Regions from separate parts of the Homo sapiens genome. Here all the other regions are linked to region 3. The links come from fine-mapping of genetic effects on gene expression. A gene starts in region 3. Each other region holds a variant in brackets. All regions are shown on one strand. Distances are from middle to middle.

Region 1 (8,267 bases), 70 kb after region 3:
TCAATTTGAAACCTAGGCACTTGGACTAACTTAAAAGATCATGTAAAAAATTTAATTTTTGTCTGGTATAGATTTAATTGTGGTTTTTTTTTTCTCTTTTAGATATAATTGATCCTGTTGCTTTAGAAATTCCATTATCCAAAAACCTTCTGGCACAGATTAGTGCTCTTGCTCTTCAGCTGGATTCAGAAGATCTTCATAATTATTCAGGAAGCCAACTATTTGAAATGCACGAGAAACTAAGTTGTATGGCAAACTCTGTAATAAAAAATCTACAGTCACGTTGGAGATCACCATCCCATGAAAATTCTATTTAGTATTTTCAGAGAAAATTGAAGGTTTTTTTAAACATCACTGGATTTCTTGATTGAGGAAACAAGTTCTGAAATAATAGCACAATTTCAAAGAAGAGACTCTTTGCAAAGTTGATAACATTTCAAACCCTGAAGGACAGTGACTTATTATGTAAGTTCAATTTTGTAAGTTCATTATGTAAGATCCTTTTTTTTTTCATAATATGTATTCTTGGCTGCTATGCGTGGTTTTTCAGGAAATTTAATTATCTTACTGAGATGTGAAAGCAAAACTAGTAACAGAACTTACATTTTATTTCATGCTTTCTTAAACCCGTGCATATTCTGGTGAAACATGTAAAATACTTTAAGTAAAATTGAACATTTTTATTTGAATTTTTGCTGAACTGATAAAGGTGTTTATATTTTTGTTTGTTGGTTTGTTTAATTCATGTTTGTTGGGACTGAGGTTTAGGAAGTTTGTTACTGGTTAAAAACCTCAAATGAAATGCGAAAGAATTTGAATTTTTCCTGCATATGTCAACTTTGGACAGCTTTCAAGAAAAATGAGAAAAGTTTCAACTTCTGGCGGTTAAAATATTAATGCAGAATTTACTAAGATTTTATTCATTTGCATTAGCAAATATTCATGCAGCAGCAGTTGACTGAAAATTTATTCTTATGAGACGTATAGTATTCATTTTTAAATGCATGATTGTACATTATGTATAGACGACAATGTTTTTAATTTATAAATTTCATTCTTTGTTAATTGCATGGGTTTTTCTGCAGCTTATTGTGAATACCTTGGTTCTGTTCAATAGAAACATTTTGTATATATTAAATACTGAAATATCAGTATCGACGGTGGAAGTGCTTCATGGGCTTGCTGCACATATTTGTAGGATACTGTATCTGCAAATGCAACAACAAATAGTTTTGTACTTGGTTAACAGTCTTAGTTAAAACATGAGTTTATTTTCTAAAAGTATCCAGAATAAGTAAAATTATAGAAATAAGAAAATGTTACACAACTTTGCTGTTCATACCCTTACCTTCTTACTACTTTTGGTTTGGAGGAGGGTATCACCACTAGAAAGTGTGCCTCCTTAAGATTTCTTAAAGGAAAGTTAGTTTCAGTATTTCACAGCAAGTTGGACTACAAAATCTAGAGTTGATCTGCTTTTTAAACCTTCATTTAAAAGCAAACTTGGAAGAAATTTGAAACTGATGTTTTTAATATATGTCTGTGTTGCCTAGGTTTTCTTTTTTTAAAGAGGTATGTAATTAAAACCTTTGTAAAATTTGCCAACTAATATTAGTGCCTGACTTCCCATATTTGTTTCATCTTTTTAACTGACAGTATATCTCACTTCTTCTTTGAATAGAATGAGTGAGTGATCTCAGTTTTCACATTTTATTCAGAAGCTAATCCCTACTTAGCAAGGCACACATTCTACAGCAAGTCATAGAAAGTTTAATCCTTGTGCCTCCTTAGCTCTCGTATATTCAGGGATCTCTATAAAAGTTGGTGTCTTTTTTCATCATCATAAATTCATCATAATCACAGATATTTTTGGGTCTAAGATATTCATATACCAAGGATGGTTTTGTAAAGAATTCTGGGATCATTGAATTAAGGATTGTGGCTTGAAGTAACTAAAGAAAAATACTAATTTCCTTAAAAGGAATTATAATTATGATTTACATTTTACATCATTAATTTCCCAAATTATATTTAACCGTAAGGAGGTGCACATGAGTTTTTAGCAAACAGGTATGAATAAGCAGCTATGTATATGTGTTTGGGGCAGAGGGGAGCAGATTACTTTAACACACTTCAGAATTAAAATCAGTTCGTTTCATGACTCTGTGCCTTAACGTTTGTGTGAACTAAACTTGCTGATTGAATGAAATTCTTGGGAAGCCGAACAGTAATAGCAGAAAATGTGACCAAATGAGTATCATGTACTTAAATCACTGAATTTTATATAAGCACAAGTATTAATTTTAAAAACATTATAGTTTAATAAAGCTGCATTTAAAAATATTTGGGAGCAAAGACAAGCATGCTAAATCTTCATTTTGCTATGGCTATAAGCATATATTTTTGGCAACTTATTTGCAATATTCTTGCCTTAAAGTTTCCTGCAAATTTCCCCCTTAGTAATTCCCGAATAGCAAAACATTAATATTCCATGATTAGCTCTACTGTGTTGTCTCACTATTAAAATGGAATTCGTTTTTTCAGATCTTTTCTAATGGTTAATAAAACAAATGTCAGATCATAATAACACTCAAATGTGTCTTAATTGTCTTATGCATATTTAAGAAGAAAAAACTAGTGGCATACAGGATTGTCATGTAGTATCTTTTTTTTTTTTTGAGACACAGTCTTGCTCTGTTGCCTATGCTGGAGTGCAATGGTGCGATCTCGGTTCACTGCAAGCTCTGCCTCCCAGGTTTACACCATTCTCCTGCCTCAGCCTCCCAAGTAGCTGGGACTACAGGTGCCCGCCACCATGCCCGGCTAATTTTTTATATTTTTAGTAGAGAAGGGGTTCACTGTGTTAGCCAGGATGGTCTTGATCTGACCTCGTGATCCGCCTGCCTCGGCCTCCCAAAGTGCTGGGATTACAGGCGTGAGCCACCCCACCTGGCCATTTTCTTTTTTTTTTGAGGTGGAGTTTTCGCCCTTGCTGCCCAGGCTGGAGTGCAGTGGTACGATCTCAGCTCACTGCAACCTCCACCTCCTGGGTTCAAGCGATTCTCCTGCCTCAGCCTCCCAAATAGCTGGGATTACAGGTGCCTGCCACCACCACTGGTTAATTTTTGTATTTTTAGTAGATACGGGGTTTCACCATGTCAGCCAGGCTGGTCTCAAACTTCTGACCTCAGATATCCACCTGCCTCAGCCTCCTAAAATGGTGGCATTACAGGCGTGAGCCACCGCTCCTGGCCCATCATTTCCATATCTATGAAATCTATTTTGGATTTTAGAGTGGATTTAAATTTTCA[A/G]TATTTCAGTGACCTCATTGTTAAAGCTGCTTTGCCACTTGTACAAGTTTGAAAACCATTGTTGAATCATATGGAGCTTTACTCTAATTCCAAATAGTTAAAGGATGAATCAGGTTAAATAATGCTGTTGGATAATACAGGCAAAAACAGGATTTAAACCCGCACATTAAAAGCATGACTGAAGGCCCGGCAGGTGGATCACTTTGGCCCAGGAGTTCAAAACTGACCTGAACAATGTGGCGAAATCCTGTCTCTACTAAAAATACAAAAACCAGCCAGGCATGTTGGCGCATACTTGTAATCTCAGCTACTCAGGAGGCTGAGACATGAGAATTGCTTGAACCTTTTAGGCGGAGGTTGCAGTGAGCCGAGATCATGCCATTGCGCGACAGAGCAAGTCTCTGTCTCGCAAAAAAAAAAAAAAAGTTTAATTCTAACATTGCCCATGGATTTTTTTTTTTCTGTACAGCTTGAAGATAAGATAGTTAAAGACTCTGTTACAATTTAAACATCATAAAAATGTGAAGAGTAAGTGGTGAGGCAAGAAACAAAATTGGGGGAAATGGTGGGGATCGTGAATATATAAGTGAAGTTTTATTTTTTTAAGGTGTAAAGGAGTGAGAATAGAGTAATTGCTTTTTAAAAAGAAAGTATAAATGGGTTAATTTTTTTCTTCCAACTTTGACTTTAATTCAGTAAGAAAGGCCTAGGTTTCATCTCATATTCTTCATAATTGATTTTCAAGAAGTTAATTTGTCATTCAGCCTAGGAGGCTATAAAACAGCAGTTAGTTGGCATTATTAGACTAAAACTTGGGTGGGGGGAGGAGACTGTTTCCTCATTGCTGCAACCCATGGTCTATCCTATTCCTAAGCCATTAGAAAGACCTTGTACTTTGTATAGAAACATTAGAGTGAGGTTTTGATTTTTAACATAGTACTCTCAAACTTTGATGTGCATATGAACAAGTGGATTCTGATTCAGTAGATCTGCATTGGGCCCCGTGAGTCTTTTTAAACACAGTCCCAGGTGATTCATGCAGATGCCTGTGAACTGCGCTGGTAGATGGGCCTAAGAGGCTTCAGGCTGTGTTTTAGGTTTTGGTAAGCCAGGCAGATTCAAGTCCTTTTATAACTGTCAATTTTGTGAATTGGGGATGCAGACTGGTTTTGAAGGCTTAAAGTTCAAAAATTATAAGAAAGTTAAGAATTTTGCTTAAGAGCCTTTTAAAAATATGGACGATTTATTTTTTAAGTAGGCAGACTAAGAATTTCAAGTTATAAAGAATCTTATTGATAAGGCAAAGTAGACAAAGTATTTTCTCATGAGTATTTGTGGGTTATGTTTTTGTTAATATAAAAGTTGATTTCTAAGTATTAGAATATATTTAGTCTCTAAATAAATCTTGCCTTCTATTATGGATCATCGTTATTAATAAACATGGAAAATCAACACTACCCCTAATATTAATCTGGCAGTTAAATTTAGTAGTGCTATAATGAATAAGTCAGTCTAGCAGATATGCCCTGTCATTATACTGCGGACCTCTGGTCACTTAATTTTCTGTTATATTATGTGGTTGAAAATTCCTGTTTCATCGTAAAGTGAAATTTGAAAGATGGAGTTGAATAATATGATTCTCGAAAAGTGAGTTTTTCTTGGAATTCTGTTAAGGTGTTAGATTTTCCTCACATATTTAAATAATCTGTAAGAACTACCCTGAAAGCACTAAGGAAAATGTAGCCGAAAGTTAAGTAATAGGTTTTAAAAATTTATCAAAATTTATTGATAGTTTGATCTGTAAAACAAATTGGGTTTCGTGCTTTCTGATGTCCAGTTAATAAGTATATTATGTGCCAGGCTTTACATATTGCTCTTTGCAAGTAGCCGTTAAAGTGTAAGTCATTGAAGTTTGAAGATCTATAAATATTTAATATAGTAGTCTAAACAGTTGTGAGAATTTACTCAGTTCTGAAATAGAATGTTAAATTTTCCGATGTGGTCCTAATCATTTTTTTCTTTACATACTAAGCCTTCCTTTCTCCAAAGAACAGTTAAAACCAAATGTGTTATGGTAAGCTGTAAATACCGTTGGAATAAAAGATAACCGTTCATCTTACCTAAAAAATTGAAGACAATATTTTCCATTGTTGATGTCACAAGTAAGAAAAAAACTCTAACTTTTGTACTCTACTTGTAGCAGAGGGAATATTTTTGGCCACAGTGTGCCAATTTATAATTGTAGATAAAGCTGAATTTACTGGGCAGCAAGCTTATATGCTGATAGAAGTTGATGCACTGAGAAGTGATGAGTTGAAGAGAATGGAAAAGGCAGATTGAGCTGGAATTTTAATGCATAGTACATTTAGTAGAGAGACAAGCTGTCCTATATACTCCTGTATACTTCAGAAATAGCTGATAGCCTATAGTCTCTGAGAGCTATTCTGTACATAGCACAGTATTATAATTGATGTTCATAAATACCCTGAGAGATTATGTTAAAATACATTATTAATACTCCCACAAAAGCAGTAAGTTAATAAGTATTTCCAACAAAAGGCAGCTTTGTTTCTTAAACGGATAAACAACATATAACTAGGAAGATCATCTTCAAAATAAAGTGTCATGGAACTGAAAATAGAGTATAGTCTAACAATTATTTTGATACACTATTGAATAGCTAACAAGTGTCTAAAGAATTTTTTATTTTTATAGAATAGGAAGTTTCTAAAAGAAAACAATTAAGAGCAAAATTGGTTTTGAGTATAGAAACTGAAGGATGGCAGTCTTAACTCCTAAGTTTTTTACAGAGCACAGATTGGTAAACTAGCATGCCACCTGTTTTTTGTACTATCTGTGAGCTGAGACTGGTTTTTACATTTTTTAATGGTGAAAAAAGTCAAAAGAAGGACATTTTGTGACACATGAAAACATATTAAATTAAAATTTCAGTATCCAGAAATAAAGTTTTATTGGAACAGCTGTGCTTATTGTCTTTAGCTGCTTTCCTGGTACAGTGGCTGAGTTTAGTAGTATAGCAGAGTCTGTATGGCTTCCAACAGTCAAAATACTGCCTGGCCTTTTAAAGAGTTTGTCAATCCCTTTTATGGAGGAAGGTTTTGCTCATGCATGGCATGTTAGTCAATTTAGTTATTTGCTTCTAGCTGGCAGAATGTGGTCTTGATTACTTAATTTCTGTTACCCCTGTGTTTTCCAGAATGGCTTCTCCTGATTTTACTTACGTGTTTTACTATTGCTCAAATTACAGATACTAGGAAACACTACTACTTTATAAGTACACTTCTTTTTCCTACTTAAACTCTCAAACTACAGTTACGTATTTGCCATGATGTTAAGGGACCTTGATGGTCTGTGAATTATCAGTTGCTTTCTGCACTACCTCCTGTAGATAGACCTGACTGATAGCACTTACAAAAAGACTGATAGATGCCAAATCAGTCATTTATTAACCCTCTAATATTGTTGTCCCGATCATTTGGTAAACGCTAAGAGAGCTTAGTTTTACATTCACAAAGTATTTGTATTTGATAAGTCTTAAAAATGATTTAAGTTGAAGCCTAACAGAAGTACTTGTTCATTCCTCAGTTACCTGCAAATAATGGAAATAATGGTGCAGTCAGTTTTATTTGATTGTGTAATGCTTTATACTAGGGGTCTCAAACCCCTGGGTGGCATTAGATTCTTACAGGAGCGTGAACCCTATTGTGAACTGCACATGCAAGAGATCTAGGTTGTGCGCTCATTATGAGAATCTAATACCCGATGATCTGAGGTGGAACAGTCTCATCCTGAAACCATCTACCCCAACACCTGTGTCTGTGGAAATTGTCTCCACGAAACCGGTCCCTGTTGAAAAAAGGTTAGGGGACCACTGCTTTATACAGTGTTTGAAGTAGGCACACTTACAGTTACTATTTCTGGTTCTTTATGACTGTTGAGGGGGGGCAGAATTCTATGTTTGATTCACAGTAAAACTTTTCATGAATCATTGAGGGTTAACTGTTATCACTTGCCAATGGAAACTGGATATTGAAACATTTTTTTAAGAAATGCACTTTTACCTGAAATAAAACTATAAAAACTAAACTCTGGTACTTGTTTTTGTTGGCTACATTTTGGTTTTTTGTTTTGTTGTTTTCGTGAGATCTGAAATGAGTATGAATAGTTTAATTCAAATACCACAAAGTGTATGTTATATTCCTCCACAAACATGAACCCTTCCTTTTCTTTTTCCCCTTTTATGGCCTGCTTTTTAACCACAGAGGTTTTCTGATTTATGCATAGTTTTATGGGTTCCACTGGTTTCTAAATCCAGAGGTGGTGGTTTTTCTGTTGTTGTTGTTGTTAATGAGTTCAGTTTCTCATTGAACTTGTTAGAAGAGAGGTTTCGTCAAATAAGGGCTGAGTAGATGCAGGCAAGCTTGGAGAGGCAGTCCACATGGTGTGGGCGAGGGCAGAGGTGGCACTGCCAGGCTAGTCACCAGATGAAGTAAATGCCTCACCCCAACATGACCTTAACTTCCTCTGCAGAACCAAGCATGTTGATGGCAGCCGAAGAAAAGCTCCATAGTTTTAAGGAAAACAACAACAACAACAATTAGGGTAAACAGTGATGTTGAAAGACACTGTATTAGTTTCCTAGGGCTGCTGTAACAGTACCACAAACCTAATAAGTTAAACAACTGAAATGTATTGTCTCAGTTTTGAATAGTAGAGGTCTGAGATATGGTATCAGCAGGGTTTGTTCCTTCTAAGGACTGTGTGGAAGTTATCTGTCCCATACCTCTCCCCAGCTAGCTTGGTGGTGTGCTGGCCATTTTTGACAGGTAGAGGTATTTCCCCAATCTCCCATCTTCATATGACTTTCTACCTATGTGCCTGTGTATTTGTCTAAATTTCCCTTTTATAAGGATAGCAAGGCCATTGGATTAGGGC
Region 2 (8,000 bases), 25 kb after region 3:
GCCACGTCTGGCTAATTTTTGTATTTTCAGTAGAGACAAGGTTTCACCATACTGGCCAGGCTGGTCTCGAACTTCTGACCTTGTGATCTGCCTGCCTCGGTCTCCCAAAGTGCTGGGATTACAGGCAAGAGCCACTGCTCCCAGCCCTATAATTACTTTTATTTAAAATACTGGTACATTTTGGGGGCATAGTTTCCCCCCCTCCCCCCACTTAGGGTCTTGCCCTGTCACCTAGACTGGAGTGCAGTGGCTGACTGCAGCCTTGACCTCCTGGGCTCCAGTGATCCTCCCACCTCAGCCCCCCCAAGTAGCTGGGACTACAGGCGTGTGCCACCATTTCTGGCTAATTTTTGTATTTTTTGTAGAGGCGGGATTTGACCACGTTGCCCGGGCTAGTCTCGAGCTCCTGGACTCAAGTGATCCACCTGCCTCAGCCTTCCAAAGTGTTAGGATTACAGGTGTGAGCCACTGTGCTCATTCTACTACAATTTTTAATTGAAATTGTAGCTTATTTTTATGTTTATGAGCTGGCATGTATTTGGGTCTAACTGTAAACCCAGAAGTGTGAGGTAATGTTTGGGACTACAATCTTTAGGAATTAAGTTAAAGCATAAAATAAGAGTAGTTTAAAGATAGTAAGTTAAAAATAAGTTCAGAGCTAGGGAATCCATGACTGATGCTGTGGATCCGGGAAGTCATCAAGGAATCAGATGACTGTATTTTTACTCTGCCATCTTTGATTTGTCTTAATTGCAGACAGGAAGGAGGGAAGGCAGAAGAGCAGAAAAGACTTCTTCACAGCTTACTCACCTATACCTAGAAATAGCCTTCTAAGAATCTTATATACACATCCACTTAAATTTTACTGGGTAGAATGGCTCAGTGGCCGACTAGAAAAAGTAGTCAAAAATTGGGCACCCATCACTGTCCTGTGTAAAATCAGATTTTTTAATTAAAGGAGATTGGTTTATTGCATGGCAATTAATCTCTGCTACTGTAGAGATATTATTATGGAGCTCTTCTCATAAATAGAATAGAGTCCAGACGTGGTGGCTCACGCCTGTAATCCCAGCACTTTGAGAGGCGGGCAGATCACCTGAGTTCTCGAGTTAGAGACCAGCCTGACCAACATGGAGAAACCCCATCTTTACTAAAAATACAAAGTTGGACGGGCATGGTGGCACATGCCTGTAATCCCAGCTACTTGGGAGGCAGAGGCAGGAGAATCCGGGAGGAGGAGGCTGCAGTGAGCCGAGATCATGCCATTGCACTCCAGCCTGGGCAACAAGAGTGAAACTTCCGTCTCTGAATGAATGAATGAATGAATGAATGAATGAATGAACAAAAAGAATAGGAGACCCCAAAAAGGAAGTGTCTTGGACTGGAGAACTTGTTCATACAGTGATAGCCTTTATTTTCTTATAGAACTGTTAATTGAAATAGCTAAATGGCAGAGTAGTTGTAACAGACATTGTTGAGTGCCATTCCACCAAATACATGGCCTGATTGATGTTTCAGAATCCTTTTCAAGTTATTTATTTATTTATTTATTCAGGACGGAGTCTCACTCTGTCACCCAGCCTGGAGTGCAGTGGTGTGATCTCAGCTCACTGCAACCTCTGCCTCCTGGGTCCAAGCGAGTCTCCTGCCTTAGGCTCCTGAGTAGCTGGTATTACAGGAGCCACCGCCATGCCTAGCTAACCTTTTTGTAGTTTTAGTAGAGGTAGGATTTCACCATGTTGGTCAGGCTGGTTTCAAACTCCTGACCTCAAGTGACCAACCTGCCTCATCCTCCCAAAGTGCCAGGATTATAGGCGTGAACCACCACGCCCAGCCCTTTTAAGGTCTTTTTGACAAGTTATTTTAGCACAGACTGTGTCTTAATTTTACATATCCCCAGTCTTACTCATTTGGCATAAATGTTTTTTCTGAAGATTGGATTTAATTTCTATGCTGAATTTTAACAATATGATTATTGTTAAGATAGGGCAGTCCTGAATCTAAATGAATCTATTTAGATTTCAAAAATGTATTCAGTCAGTGGCCCCAGTAGTAATGATTTTTGATGGAATATATTAATAATTGATTTTTAAAATGATAGCCTTTTTTGACATAATGTAAACATATGCTTCCGTTTCTTTGTCAAATGGGGATAATGAGAATGCTAAAGCAGCTAGGACAGTATTTGTCAAAGTTTTGGCATTTTGTGCTGGATAATTTGTTTTTCAGGACTGTCCTGGTGTGGTGTTGAAGTTTAGTAGCGTCCGTAGTCTCTACTCACTAAGATGTCAATAGCATCCCCTCATTTGTAACCAACCTGAAGTATTCCCTGGTGGGAAATTGCCCCGGCACACAATATCTAATAAATATTACTTATTTGTTTTAAAATATATTTTTGATTTATTGAGTGTTTTTGGTTCAGCTGTACTGTAGTTTATCAAAATGCAAGTTTTGGGTAGAGCAAGGACAGCCTGGGGATTTATTTTTTTAAAAAAATTTTAAAATACGTTCTCTTGCTGTGATAAAAGACTGTTGCATAGCTAGTGTTAGAGTTAATCTTTAGCTTGGACGTCTCTTTAACTGTGTGCTTATTTTCTTTTAAGATATACTATGTAGTGCAAAAAGACTCAAGTTGTTAATGCAGCCTTTGAGTTCCATCCATGTGAGAACAGAAACTCTAGCATTAACAAAACTAGAAGTCTGGTGGTATTTACTGATGAGACTTGGACCTCATCTTCCTGCTAATTTTGAACAGGTAACATTACAAGTGTTGACTATAGCACTTTATGTTTTTGTTAATGTGTTCTTAAATTCTTACCAATGTAATCCTGTGGTGTTATTTTTGCTATTTATTAGCAGACTAGAACATATAAAAGGTCTTTCACTTTACTGGCAGAGAACTTAAATTCATTTCCCACAAGGGATATTGTTCAGTTGCTTGAAATGGAGCCCCTTTACCTGAAATGTTTTTATTTATTTATTATTAATTTATTTATTTTGAGATGGAGTCTTGTTCTGTTTCCCAGGATGGAGTGCAGTGGCACGATCTCGGCTCACTGCAACCTCCACCTCCTGGGTTCAAGTGATTCTCCTGTGTCAGTCTCCCGAGTAGCTGGGACTGCAGGCGCACGACCACACCTGGCTAATTTTTTGTATTTTTTAGTGTAGATAGGGTTTTACCATGGTGGCCAGGCTGGTCTCGCACTCCTGGCCTCAAATGATTCGCCCATGCCAGCCTCCCAAAATGCTGGGATTACAGGCATGAGCCACCGCGCCTGGCCCTGAAATGTTTTTAAATTAGCAAGTACTCAAACATTCTTACTCTACAAGCATTATGATTTTAAACAAAGGGTTTTTTCCCCTAGAGCATTTGGAATATAATTGAGAAGAAAACCAGCATCAGTGAAATAGAAATCAGCCGGGCGCGGTGACTCA[T/C]GCCTGTAGTCCTAGCACTTTGGGAGGCAGAGGCAGGTGGGTTGCCTGAGCTCAGGAGTTTGAGACCAGCCTGGGCAACATGGTGAAACCCCGTGTCTACTAAAATACAAAAAAGTAGCTGGGTGTGGTGGCATGTGCCTGTAGTCTCAGCTACTCGGGAGGCTGAGGAGAATTGCTTGAACCCAGGAGATGGAGGTTGCAGTGAGCTGAGATCACACCACTGCACTCCAGCCCAGGCAACAGAGTGAGACTCCATCTCAAAAAAAAAAAAAAAGAGAGAAATCAAGTGCTACACTGGGTAGATACAAGGTTGGACCAGTTCTTGTTTTTTTATTTCTTGCTCCGTTTTCTAGGCTGCATAGTGATAACCAATGACTGAATCCTATTTATAGGTTCTTTTTAATTGTTACACAATGATTTTACGAATTCTTCAGGATTTGCATATCCTTACTGGCATTTAGATATAAAGTTTAATCTTAACCTAAACCTTTTGAGTTATTTGCAGTTATTTCCATCCTTGGTTTTTGAATTTTTTTTTTTTTTTTTTTTTGAGATGGAGTCTCGCTCTGTTGCCCAGGCTAGGGTGCAGTGGCACGATCTCGGCTCACTGCAAACTCCACCTCCTGGGTTCACACCATTCTCCTGCCTCAGCCTCCTGAGTAGCTGGGACTACAGGCGCCCGCCACCACGCCCAGCTAATTTTTTGTATTTTTAGTAGAGACGGGGTTTCACTGTGTTAGCCAGGATGGTCTCGATCTCCTGACTTTGTGATCTGCCTGCCTCGGCCTCCCAAAGTGCTGGGATTACAGGCATGAGCCACTGCGCCAGCCTGGTTTTTGAATTTTTTTACAGTTAAAAGGAGCAGCTCTGCTAACATCTTTTTCATTTCTTTATCACTTATTTTGGATTTTGGGGGTACATTTTACTTCTGGGGGTATATTTTAGGGGTATATTTTATATTTTATATAAATAGCTGCATAGCAGGGAATGCATTCTTGGACAGGAGGACTTATAAATATACTTAAGCCATTTTTATTCAGTTTTTAATTTTTTAATTATTGAGTTTTAAATTTATATAACATGAAATAATTGAAGATGGGCATTGTCAACAATGTAATTTGCATCATAATGAATTTTCCAAATTCTACCATTATAAGGGTCCAATAGGCTAATTCTTTGCATTTGTCCAATACATTAATTGGAATAATTTATTTGGTAACTACATGTGACTGGTACTAGGATGATGTTAGAAATGAGCTTTGTCTGAGTTCATGTTTTCCAGAGTTTTAAAAAGTTAAAATTAGTCTACCAGTAATGTGTACAGTTCAGATGTTGATGTATATAAACAAATTTAGGTAATACATATTTAGGGCAAATACAGTTGTAATGTTCATATTTTTTCCAAATTCCACTTTTTAGCCTGTTTGTGCATGGAAACGATCTGTAAAATGGAATATATTAAGGCTCCATTTAATGAAATTTATATTATGTGAGGCTTTTAAAAACTGTGACAGTTGTATAGTTTATAGATCGATGTTTTCTTTTACCCCATAGGTTTGTGTGCCTCTGATTCAAAGTACAATAAGCATTGATTCTAATGCCTCACCTCAGGGCAATTCGTGTCATGTAGCTACATCTCCAGGTTTAAATCCTATGACTCCTGTACACAAAGGTAAGAGGTAGATATTCTTGTTTTTTGCTTTTTTAATCAGGCTTTGTTGACCTAGAAGCATAGTTTTGAAGTAGGAAAAAAAAAGGCTTTGAGAGGTTTTGCTCAGTGTTTTTCGTTTGAAATGAAGCACTTCATAATTTTTAGGTTCATTACCAAAAAATCCATTATCATGTTTTTCTGTTTTTTGTTTTTTTTTTTTAATATTACTGATTACTGTTGTAAGCGCATTGTTGTGGTTAGAAGAGACGGATGTTTTTTCAGTACATTATGTGAGGTGCCTTGCAAAAAAAGCCTCAGAGCAGCTAACATGAAGCTGTTGATTTTAGAACCAGAATCTTAGCGCTATTAAAAACAACACATCGGCCAGGTGAGGTGGCTCACGCCTGTAATCCTAGCACTTTGGGAGGCCGAGCCCAGCAGATCACTTGAGGTCAGGCATTTGAGACCAGCCTGGCCAACACGGTGAAACCCAGTCTCTACTGAAAATAAAAAAATTAGCCGGGCGTGGTCGTGGGCCCCTGTAATAACCAGCTACCTGGGAGGCTGTGGCAGGAGAATTGCTTGAATCCTGGGAGGCGGAGGTTGCAGTGAGCCGAGATCTCGCCACTGCACTCCAGCCTGGGCGACAGAGTGAGACTCAGTCTCAAAAAAAACAAAATAAAACAAAAACAACACTTCAGCCAGGTGCAGTGGCAGGCACCTATAATCTCAGCATTTAGGGGGCTGAGGTGGGAGGATCACTTGAAGCCAGGAGTTGGATACCACCTGTGCTACATAGTGAGACCCTGTCTCTACAAAAAATTTAAAAATTAACTGAGCACAGTGGTATCCATCCATCTATAGTTACAGCTACTTGGAATGCTGATGGGAGAAGTGCTTGAGCCCAGGAGTTTGAGGTTGTAGTGAACTATGATTGTACCACTGCACTGCAGCCTGGGCAGTACAATGAGACTCTGTCTCAAAAAAAAAAAAAAAAAAAATCTCAGCAGTTATAAAGTGTCTTCTTTATGTATGTCATTGAAAGACATATGATATACATGTGTGTCATATGTATTATTTTGTTTGCCATCTGAGTCTTCAAAATTTGTTACAGAATACCTGCATATTAATATTTCAAGGTATGGATTAATGCCTGAGACATTTAAACTCTGTTTTTAAAAGTTTCATTGAAATGAAATGTATGCATTTGGGTAGCTAATATAAAATGAGCTTGTATGACTTAACTCTTTTTTTTTTTTTCTTAAAGGTGCTTCCTCCCCGTACGGAGCCCCGGGAACTCCCCGAATGAACCTGAGTTCGAATTTAGGTGGAATGGCCACAATCCCATCCATTCAACTTTTGGGACTTGAAATGTTGCTTCATTTCTTGTTGGGTCCAGAAGCCTTGAGTTTTGCTAAGCAAAATAAACTTGTGCTGAGCTTAGGTATTTAAAGGTTTTAAGAATAATTTTAATTACTAAAACAGTCTAGGACTTAATGCATTGGGGTGAGGAGAGGTGTTATTTTGTCGCAGCCAAAATATTTTACAGTTGTGTATGAAATATGAATCTTTTTTTTATAGAAAACACACCTACTTAATAGACATTTTAAAGTTTTATAGTGAGAAATGTATTTCATAAATCTGTTGTTTTACATAATTATCTTTTATTCTTCCCTTTCAGAGCCATTGGAACATCCGTTAATCAGCAGCCCTTCCTTTTTTTCCAAACATGCAAATACACTTATCACTGCTGTTCATGATAGCTTTGTTGCAGTTGGAAAAGATGCCCCCGGTAAGAGAATTTGATTTATTATTTGCTCAAATGTGTGTTTAAAAAGAAGAAAAAATAGGCCAGTCACAGTACCTCACACCTGTAATCCCAGCACTTTGGGAGGCCGAGGTGAGTGGATCACTTGAGCTCAGGAGTTCGAGACCAGCCTGGGCAACATGACAAAACCCTGTCTCTACAAAGCATACAAAAACTAGGTGGGCATGTTGGCAGATACCTGTAGTCCCAGCTACTCGGGAGGCGGAGGCATGAGAATTGCTTGAGCCCAGGAGGTGGAAGTTGCAGTGAGCCAAGATTGTGCCACTGCACTGCAGCCTGGGTGATAGAGCAAGACTCTATTAAAAAATAAAAAATATGAAGATAAAATAACAAATATTTATATAGTGCCACCTACTGGCCAGATTGTGCATTGAGAACTTTACATTTATTCATTTAATTTTCGCAGTAACATACCATGTTAGTTCATTTTACAAATGAGAAAATGGGTTATACAGGAAGTACATAAGTTATGCAGAGTCACTTACGAGTGGTAGTACCGTGTCAAGCTCTATGGCTCTAGCATCTGTGCCTAAACTCCTGTGTTACATGGCCTATCAAATAATGAGGAAAGGAAATTTCAAAAATTGTTTGCTCTTTAACTGGTTGGAAAAAGAATCACAATGAATCACATAAATTTTTTCTATTGGTTGTTAGATATCCTTCTGAATCTCCGTGAACAATCTCTGCCCCAAAAGTAGTGGGCATTCAATTCAGAAAAGAAAGATAATTTAAAAAAAGATAAAACAATTACCCTTAGTTACACAATTCATTGTTAACATGTTATAGTTGTTTTAAGGAACACATTTATGGCTGGACATGGTAGCGCATGCCTGTAATCCTGGCAGTTTGGGAGAGGCTAAGGTGGGAGGTTCACTTGAGGCAGATGTTTGTGACCAGCCTAGGAAATGTAGTGAGAGTGCTATCTTTACAAAAAAAAATAATTAGATGGGTGTAGTGGTGTGTACCTATAGTCCTAGCTACTTGGGAGGCTGATGTGGGAAGACTGCTTGAGCCCAGGTTGTTGAGGTGACAATGAGCTATGATTGTGCCACTGTACTCCAGCCTGGACAGAGCAAGACCCTGTCT
Region 3 (8,277 bases):
GAAAAGAATTAAGAAATTTTAAATTAATACAATCACTTAATAAATGCTTATTAAATACCTATTATGTGCCAAGATTTGTGCTAGGCACTGAACTTTGATGTAAGTATATTCTTCTAATTTTATTGATGAAGATGTGGTAACTTTAAGCATTTCTCTGGAGGATCTCAAGTCACACAGTGGCACAGCAAGTATTTAAACACTCATTTCTTTGATCCAAAGCTGAGCTCATTGCATTTACTATAATAATTTGGATTACAGATGAATACTTGATTTTACTAAACGAATTACTATATGAGCCCTTTACATAATGGGCTCCCATAGGACTTTACACTTTATTTTTCTTACAAGATTCAGTAATAAATCTATCATGAAAGCCATTTTACCACCGTGCCTTGTGCAGGGTAGAGCTCATTACATGTTGATGAATGAAAGTAGTTCAAGTAGACTTGTTGTTACACATGGCTAGATTAAAGTTCTCTGTTTTAATTTACTCTTTAAGCTTTACATGGCCTATGTGTAAATCCAGGAAAGTAATTCATCTTAGAATTATTGTGAGAAATAAATGAGATAATGCTTGCATGGGCTGGGCGTGTTGGCTCTCTCCTGTAATCCCAGCAGTTTGGGAGGCCAACGAAGGTGGATCACTTGAAGTCAAGCATTCCAGACGAGCCTGGTCAACATGGTGAAATCCCGTCTCTGACAAAAATACAAACATTAGCTGGGCATGGTGGTACACACCTGAAATCCCAGCTATTTGGGTGGCTGAGGCATGAGAATCACTTGAACACTGCAACATTTGAGGTTGCAGTGAGCTGAGATTGTGCCACTGCACTCCAGTCTGGGCAACAGAACAAGACTCTGTCTCGAAAAGAAAAAAAAAAAAGATAAGGCATGTATGGCACCAGGCACTCAATAAAAACTTTTTTTGTTTTTTTTTTTTAAGAAATAATATGTTTAGGTGTATTTAGGCTATAAATTGAGATTTTAGATACACATTGGTGGGTAGATCTAAGAATTATTGAGAAGGGAGAATCATTAGGACCACTGGGGACAAGTAAGAGAAAGGAGTCATTGATAGATATAGATTATAGGCTTGACGTTTGCTGAGTAATGTGTGCTTAATGTGGCTGGGCATGGTGGTTCAAGACTATAATCTCAGCACTTTGGGAGGTTAAGGTGGGAGAATTGCTTGAGCCCAGGAGTTTGAGACCAGTCTGAGCAACATAGCAAGACTCCATCTCTACAAAAAATAAAAATTAGCCAGGCATGGTGGTGCATTCTTGTAGTCCCAACTACTCAGGAGGCTGAGGTGAGAGGATCACCTGAGCCCAGGAGGTAGAGGCTGCATTGAGCCATGTTTGCACCACTGCACTCCAGCCTGGGTGACAGAGCAAGTCCCTGTCTCAAAACAAAACAAAACAAAACAAAACAAAAAAACATAAATGAGGAAGTTAGAAAGGAATATTGGATTGCAGATATAAGGCATCTAGAAAGGGAAGATGATCTGGGGAGAAGAGATATAGGATTTAGAGAGGGAAAGATAGAAATCGTGTATTAGTTAGATGATAGATGGATGAATTAATATATGAACAAATTATTTCAAATTATATTTATTGAGTGCTAGGTACTATGAATTTATTGCCCAAAGGTAGCAGATCCATGAGGGTGGCTATAAATATTTCTATATAAATTTATATGGAATTTCTATAAAAGAGAAGTTTTGGGGTAGCAACCAAGTTGTAAAGGTGTGTGAAGAGGGGTCTGGGTGGGGAAGGGTATTTGTTTTCATTCTGTAATCCCTTAGCACTCTAGATCAGATTGAGAAAATGTCAAATAGGAGGGAGGGGCACTGATGAGATGAGATTACAGATGGAATTAATCCCCATCAGGATAACTCTCAACTCTGCCACTGCACTCAAACACCTATAACCAAACAATAATAAATTAATGAGATACTCATTTTATCAGATCTATAGCATGATAGGAGGGAGGCAGGAGCATTTAATTCTCCATGAAGAGAATGTGTGTGGTTGGAGAGTAGATGAGGGAAAGATTTCACAAAAAGGTGTGATTTTAGTTGATTTTTTTTTTTTAAGATGGAGTCTTGCTCTGTTGCCCAGGCTGCGATGCAGTGGCACAATCTTGGCTTGAATCCGCCTCCTGGGTTCAAGCGATTCTCCTGCCTCAGCCTCCTGAGTAGCTGGGATTACAGGCATGCACCACCACGCCTGGCTAATTTTTGTATTTTTAGTAGAGAAGGGGTTTCACCATATTAGCCAGGCTGGTCTTGAACTGACCTCAGGTGATCCACTTGCCTCAGCCTTGCAAAGTGTTGGGATTATAGGTGTGAGCCACCTGACTCTTATTTATTACTCTTGAAGAAGGTAATTAATATTCTAAATACATGCTCTGAATAAAAGTCTTCAAAGACACAGAGAAGCTGGAGATCTTAGCAGACTGTTCAGAATCTGATGAAGTGGGAGTAATCTGGAGATGAAGGACAAGCAGTGGCCCAATCATGATAGGCTTGCATGTTATGTCAAAAGTTTTGAAATCCATCCTGTTACTGATGGGAATGGCTGGAGAACTTTAGGCACAGGAATGACAATGATAAAATCTTACATAACATTTTTGAGCTACTTATAAGGCTGAGGCAGGAGGATCATTTGAGCCCAAGAAGTTCAGGGCTGCAGTAAGTCACAATCACACCACTGCACTCCAACCCAGGTGACAGAGCAAGGCCTTGTCTTTAAAAATAATAAAATTTAAAACATAACATTTTTGGAAGATCAAAGAACCATACATATGAAAGAAATACAAGCAACATGACCACCGTAGTCCTTTCATTACAAATGGGAAATTATGAAAAAAATAAAGCAAAATCCCTGTTCTCACAGAATTTATGTTCTAATGAATGGGTAGAGGCAGGCGTGGTGGCTCAAGTCTGTAATCCCAGCACTTTGGGAGGCCGAGGCGGGCTGATCACGAGGTCAGGAGATCAAGACCATCTTGGCCAACATGGTGAAACCTGTCTATACTAAAATACAAAAAATTAGCTGGGCGTGGTGGCGCATGCCTGTAATCCCAGCTACTCGGGAGGCTGAGGCAGGGGAATCGCTTGAACCCAGGAGGCGGAGGATGCAGTGAGCTGAGATCAGGTCAGTGCACTCCAGCCTGGGTGATAGAGCGAGACTCCGTCTCAAAAAAAAAAAAAAAAAAAAAAAAAAAAAAAATATATATATATATATATATATGTATATGTATATATGTATGTGTGTGTGTGTATATATATAAATATATGTAAATAAATATAAATATATATAAATACATATAAATAAATAAATATATATATAAGCATACTATGTATGTACTGCGTCGTTTGGCAGTCATTTTGCTAAGTGCAGATGACACAAAGAAGAGCAAAAAGCAACATCCCACTTCTAGAGCTGAGAGTTGCAGCACATGTGAGTGAGGGCTCAAATCCTGGGCCAGGAACCCATGATGGAGAGTTCCATTGCTGCTGGGCTTCATGTGTCTGATTTAGAGTTAATGCAATCCTGTCTGTTGTGGAGAGTGCACGAAGGCATATGAAAAGGGGAGAAGCAGACCGGGCGCGGTGGCTCACGCCTGTAATCCCAGCACTTTGGGTGTCCGAGGCGGGTGGATCACGAGGTCAGGGGTTCGAGACCAGCACGGCCAAGATGGTGAAACCCCGTCTCTACTAAAAGTACAAAAATTAGCCAGGTGTGGTGGCGGGCGCCTGTAATCCCAGCTGCTCGGGAGGCTGAGTCAGAGACTCGCTTGAACCCGGGAGGCAGAGGTTGCAGTGAGCCGAGATCGCACCACTGCACTCCAGCCTGGGCGAAAGAACGAGGCTCCGTCTTAAAAAAAAAAAAAGGCGGGGGAGGAGCAGCATATTCACAGTAAGGAGAAATGACTGTCATTGTGTTTACTGACGTTTCTCTAGGGAAGAAGCCCTGGCCAAATCCCACCCTTCAACCCCCCAGGGGCCTAACAGAAGAATGCACATCCTCGGGAGCTACCTAAATCTACTGAATTACAATGCATATGGGCGGGGCCCAGGAATCTGCAGTTTAATAACGAATATCCCCAGGCCATTGTTATGTACGCTTAAGACCTGAGAACCATTGGCCTCTCCAACCTTTTCTCACTTCACCTATTAAAAGCCCTATTTTATAGAGGAGGAAATTGAGGCATAGGTTAATTAACTTGCTAAAGTCACATGGAACCTAGACCAGCTGGAATCTAGACCAGCTTGAGATACAGTTCTTTTCTTTTTCTTTCTTTCTTTTTTTTTTTTTTTGAGAGACGGAGTCTTACTCTTACTCTGTCGCTCAGGCTGGAGTGCAGTGGCGTGATCTCGGCCCACTGCAACCTCCGCTTCCCGGGTTTAAGCGATTCTCCTGCCTCAGCTTCCCAAGTGGCTGGGACTACAGGCGTGCGCCACCACACCCAACTAATTTTTGTATTTTTGTTTTTTTTAAGTAGAGACGGGGTTTCACCATGTGTTGGCCAGGCTGGTCTCGAACTCCTGACCTCAGACTCGGCCTCCCAAAGTGCTTGGATTACAAGGTGTGAGTCACCGCGCCCGGCCAGCTCTTAGTCTTAAACCCAACAGTACGTTATCTCCTTTTGCTAACTGATTTGTTGCTAAAACTTCAACAAGCACTGGACTTGGAGTTTGAACACTTAGTCTGAGGGCCCACTATGTTCAGTCTAGTGAGTCTGAGCAATTAACTCACATTTTGAATTTCAAGTCTCTCGCCTTAGGCAAAACACCACCACCTGATGCTCACCAGAGGGGCGTGACGCGGCAGCTGGGCAGGGAAGGGATGGGAAGGGATGGGAAGGGAGGCGATCGATAACTCCGGTGTGCCGCTGACTGTTGGATTGGCTCGAACTTCTCCCGCCAGGCCTAACCTACTCCCGCGCACTCCTGGGCCCGCCCAGCCGCCATCTTGGTCTAGGAGGGAGCGCGCCGCACGCGTGAGTAAACAGCCGGAGCTGGGAAAGTCGAGCTCTGGCAGCGTCTGGGTGCTGAGGGGCAGAGGCGGAGAGAACCCTGTCCTGATCTTCCTAGGTGGGATAAATATCGGGGTGACAGTGGTAGGCCGCGGGGAACCCTCAGTCTGCCCACCCTCCGCCCCCTCGCGGCGAGATGCCTCGTTCCCCGGGCTTCTCCCGCCCTCCGCCGATCTCCTCCCTCTGTTGAAAGCTGCCCGGGAAAGTGGTGGCGGGAGCGGGCCCAGGCCCGAATGTGGCGTGGGCTCAGGTGTCTGGTGTCGGGCGCCGGAGGAGGTTCGCGCTGGGGTTTGGTGATTCGGAGGCCTGGGGTGCAGACGCGGCGTGGCTGTGAGGCCCGGGCGGGCGTGCGGGTGTGAGGGCCGGACTCACACTGGGCCGCCGCGGGGCTGTTTCCATCGGTCACTGGATTTTCTCCTCTTCCGGTTCGGGCCTCAGGGTGGCCGACATGACGGCCAGGGGTCAGAGCCCCCTCGCGCCGCTGTTGGAGACTTTGGAAGACCCTTCTGCCTCCCATGGAGGGCAGACTGACGCTTACCTGACTCTGACCAGGTGAGGTCCGCCACGGGGCGTAGCGGAGAGTGGGGCGCTCTATAGTGGGGAGAAAGAAGGTGGTTGGGAGGGGCGCGTAGAATGAATGTGAGTTCTAGAAGTCTAGCAAATGTGAGGACGCCCGAGTCGCGGACGCCTTGGGGGGCGGGGGAGATGTATTCTAGGTGACGTTCCCGGGTACTGCTGCTGCTGCGCTTGAGGTGTGTGTTTGGAACGAGGGAGCATGCACGTGTGTTTTGCAAGCGAGGGATTTTTAAAAGTTTCGGTTGGAAGTAGTTGTTGGAGGAGGGGTCTTCAGTGTAAACCTCCGATGTGTTGGGAAAATGTGGCTACCCAGAGTTTTTTTAACAGAGCAATACACTGATTTTTATTAATTGCAAAATGCTTCAAAGTAATTTTCATAGAAATGTACTAAAGTTTTGTAAAACCCTTTGGAAAGGCTTAGCAAATCGTTAGTAACTAGGAATAGGGATCCCTGTTCTGTCTTTTTGGAGTCAGGTTGTCACAACTTGCATGTACTCGATGTAAAAACTTATTCTGAGGGTTTTTCTACTTTCATTTCTGATATATATTGCATTATATATTCTGTATACCCTTAAGGACCTTACCTACTGGGTCAATTCATTTGCAGGAGTTAGAAAGTAATTTTTAAAAAGATTGTACATGTATTTTTGAGAGTATTTTTTTTTTTCCTGTCAACTACTTAAACTTGTGTTCTTCCTGCTTTTTAAGTCGTATGACTGGAGAAGAAGGAAAAGAAGTAATTACAGAAATTGAGAAAAAACTTCCTCGGCTGTACAAAGTTTTAAAGGTATGTATCTGTTTGTTAAACAGTTTTTCACTTTTGGTAGTTTGGTTTTTTTTTTTGGTTTTGTTTTTTTGTTTTGAGGTGTAGTTTTGCTCTTGTTGCCCAGGCGAGAGTGCAATGGCTCAGGCTCGGGCTCGGCTCACTGAAACCTCCGCCTCTCGGGTTCAAGCGATTCTCTTGCCTCAGCCTCCTGAATAGCTGGGATTATAGGCATCCGCCACCGCCCCGGCTAATTTTGTATTTTTAGTAGAGAAGGGGTTTCTCCATGTTGGTCAGGCTGGTCTCGAACTCCCGACCTCAGGTGATCCGCCTGCCTCAGCCTCCCAAAGTGTTGGGATTACAGGAGTGAGCCACTGTGTCCAGCCACTTTTGGTGGTTTTTAAAAGTTTTGCCAGTTGACTCAAAAGCTTTGAATCTAAAATAACAGCAATAATACTGATTATAATACTCTTTATTGTTACTTAAAGCTTCTCAGGTACTTTCTTAATTACCTTACACGCTTTATCACTTAACTCTCCATGGTTCCATGAGATTATTTCTTAATGATCACTTTGCAGGTGAAGAAATTAATTTAATTTGCCTAAAGTTGCCTAGGGGCACTTGAATCTGAGTTTGTGCTCTTGAAAGCAGAGATCAGAGATTAATCTGTTTTCTTTCCTTTTGGGAATCTACATCTAAGTAAGTGCTTCTAAAATTACAATTGTCTTTGGTCTAATCTAGGTAGCATTAATTTCTTTTTCCTCATTCACCCTCAGTTTTTGCTACAACCGTTATCATTTTTGCTTTAGGGAAATGATGTTTGACATCATACTGTGGACCTGTGTTCCTGTCTTCACTTGCCTACTTAATGGCTTCCTGACTATCCTTAACATCTTTTAAATTTCCTTGTTTTTAGAATGAAAAAGTTGAACTTTTATCTCCAAAGTTTGAGTTCTCATTTTTATGACCTTGTTCTCTTTTTTTAATTTTTTTTGTTTGTTTTTATTATGACCTTGTTCTTGTGCTTTTATTTTTGTTTTTAATTTTTAAAATTGAGGTGGGGGTCTTGATAGGTTGCCTAAGCCAGTCTTGAACTCCTGGGTCCAAGCGATCCTCCCACCTCAGCCTCCTTAGTAGCTGAGATTACAAGTAGGTGCCACCATGCCCAGCTTTTGTGCTTTTTGTTTGTTTGAGACAGAGTCTTGCTGTGTCGCCCGTGCTGGAGTGCAGTGGCACAATCTCAGCTCACTGCAACCTCTGCCTCCCAGGTTCAAGTGATTCTCCCGCCTCAGCCTCCTGAGTAGCTGGGATTACAGGCATGCCCCCACCACACCCAGCTAATATTTTTAGTAGAGACGGGCTTTCACCATGTTGACCAGGCTGATCTTGAACTCTTGACCTCAGGTGATCCACCCGCCTTGGCCTCTCAGAGGGCTAGGATTATAGGTGTGAGCCACCGTGCCCAGCCGTGTGCCTTTAAACAAGTGTTTCATCCAGACATGTACATTTTAACGTGATTTTTGGCGAAGTATTAACAGAGATACTGCCTACTCTTGGTGGTGTCACAGTCATCAACATTTTTTGTGTAAGCAGAAACTTTATTGTGTGCTAGTTACTTAATATCAGTGTTTATTCCATTTTCTTCATTATCATATTCCATATTATAATAATTAGATGTGAAGACATGCACTTTCGTGTATTGAGTATTTATAGGATCAGGAATTCTATTGCATACTTTTTTTTTTTTTGAGACGGAGTTTTGCTCTTGTTGCCCAGGCTGGAGTGCAATGGCTTGAACACCTCCTGGGTTCAAGCCGTTCTCCTGCCTCAGCCTCTCAAGTAGCTGGGGTTACAGGCATGTGCCACTACGCCCAGCTACTTTTTTTTTTGTATTT

Direction of the effects. Alleles are on the strand shown, and positions count from the first base shown. SD is a standard deviation of normalised expression in the study named.
For the expression in tibial nerve of the gene that starts at base 4,970 in region 3, allele A in region 1 goes with a higher level than allele G (moderate effect, 0.55 SD a copy in GTEx).
With allele C in place of T in region 2, the expression in minor salivary gland of the gene that starts at base 4,970 in region 3 is lower (moderate effect, 0.50 SD a copy in GTEx).

What was found. PIP is the estimated chance that this variant, and not a neighbour inherited with it, causes the effect.
Region 1: its variant is fine-mapped to the expression of RIF1 in tibial nerve (GTEx, PIP above 0.99). The same link has a PIP of 0.9 or more in atrial appendage and nucleus accumbens.
Region 2: its variant is fine-mapped to the expression of RIF1 in minor salivary gland (GTEx, PIP 0.91).

What each region holds. Positions count from the first base shown.
Region 1 is chr2:151,474,755-151,483,021 of GRCh38, forward strand. RIF1 (replication timing regulatory factor 1) reads left to right here. Exons shown (of 36, transcript NM_018151.5): 36 at 103-7,418. The coding sequence ends at 317. Among named protein-coding and RNA genes, the nearest start is that of RIF1, 69 kb to the left of the region's middle. The variant A/G (reference allele first, on the strand shown) is at 3,312.
Region 2 is chr2:151,430,474-151,438,473 of GRCh38, forward strand. It overlaps RIF1 (replication timing regulatory factor 1), which reads left to right. Exons shown (of 36, transcript NM_018151.5): 10 at 2,604-2,755; 11 at 4,990-5,107; 12 at 6,354-6,530; 13 at 6,768-6,878. Among named protein-coding and RNA genes, the nearest start is that of RIF1, 25 kb to the left of the region's middle. The variant T/C (reference allele first, on the strand shown) is at 3,436.
Region 3 is chr2:151,404,933-151,413,209 of GRCh38, forward strand. It overlaps RIF1 (replication timing regulatory factor 1), which reads left to right and starts at 4,970. Exons shown (of 36, transcript NM_018151.5): 1 at 4,970-5,101; 2 at 5,482-5,595; 3 at 6,328-6,406. The coding sequence starts at 5,492. RefSeq lists enhancers at 3,881-4,579, 4,580-5,278, 4,883-5,042 and a silencer at 3,883-4,177.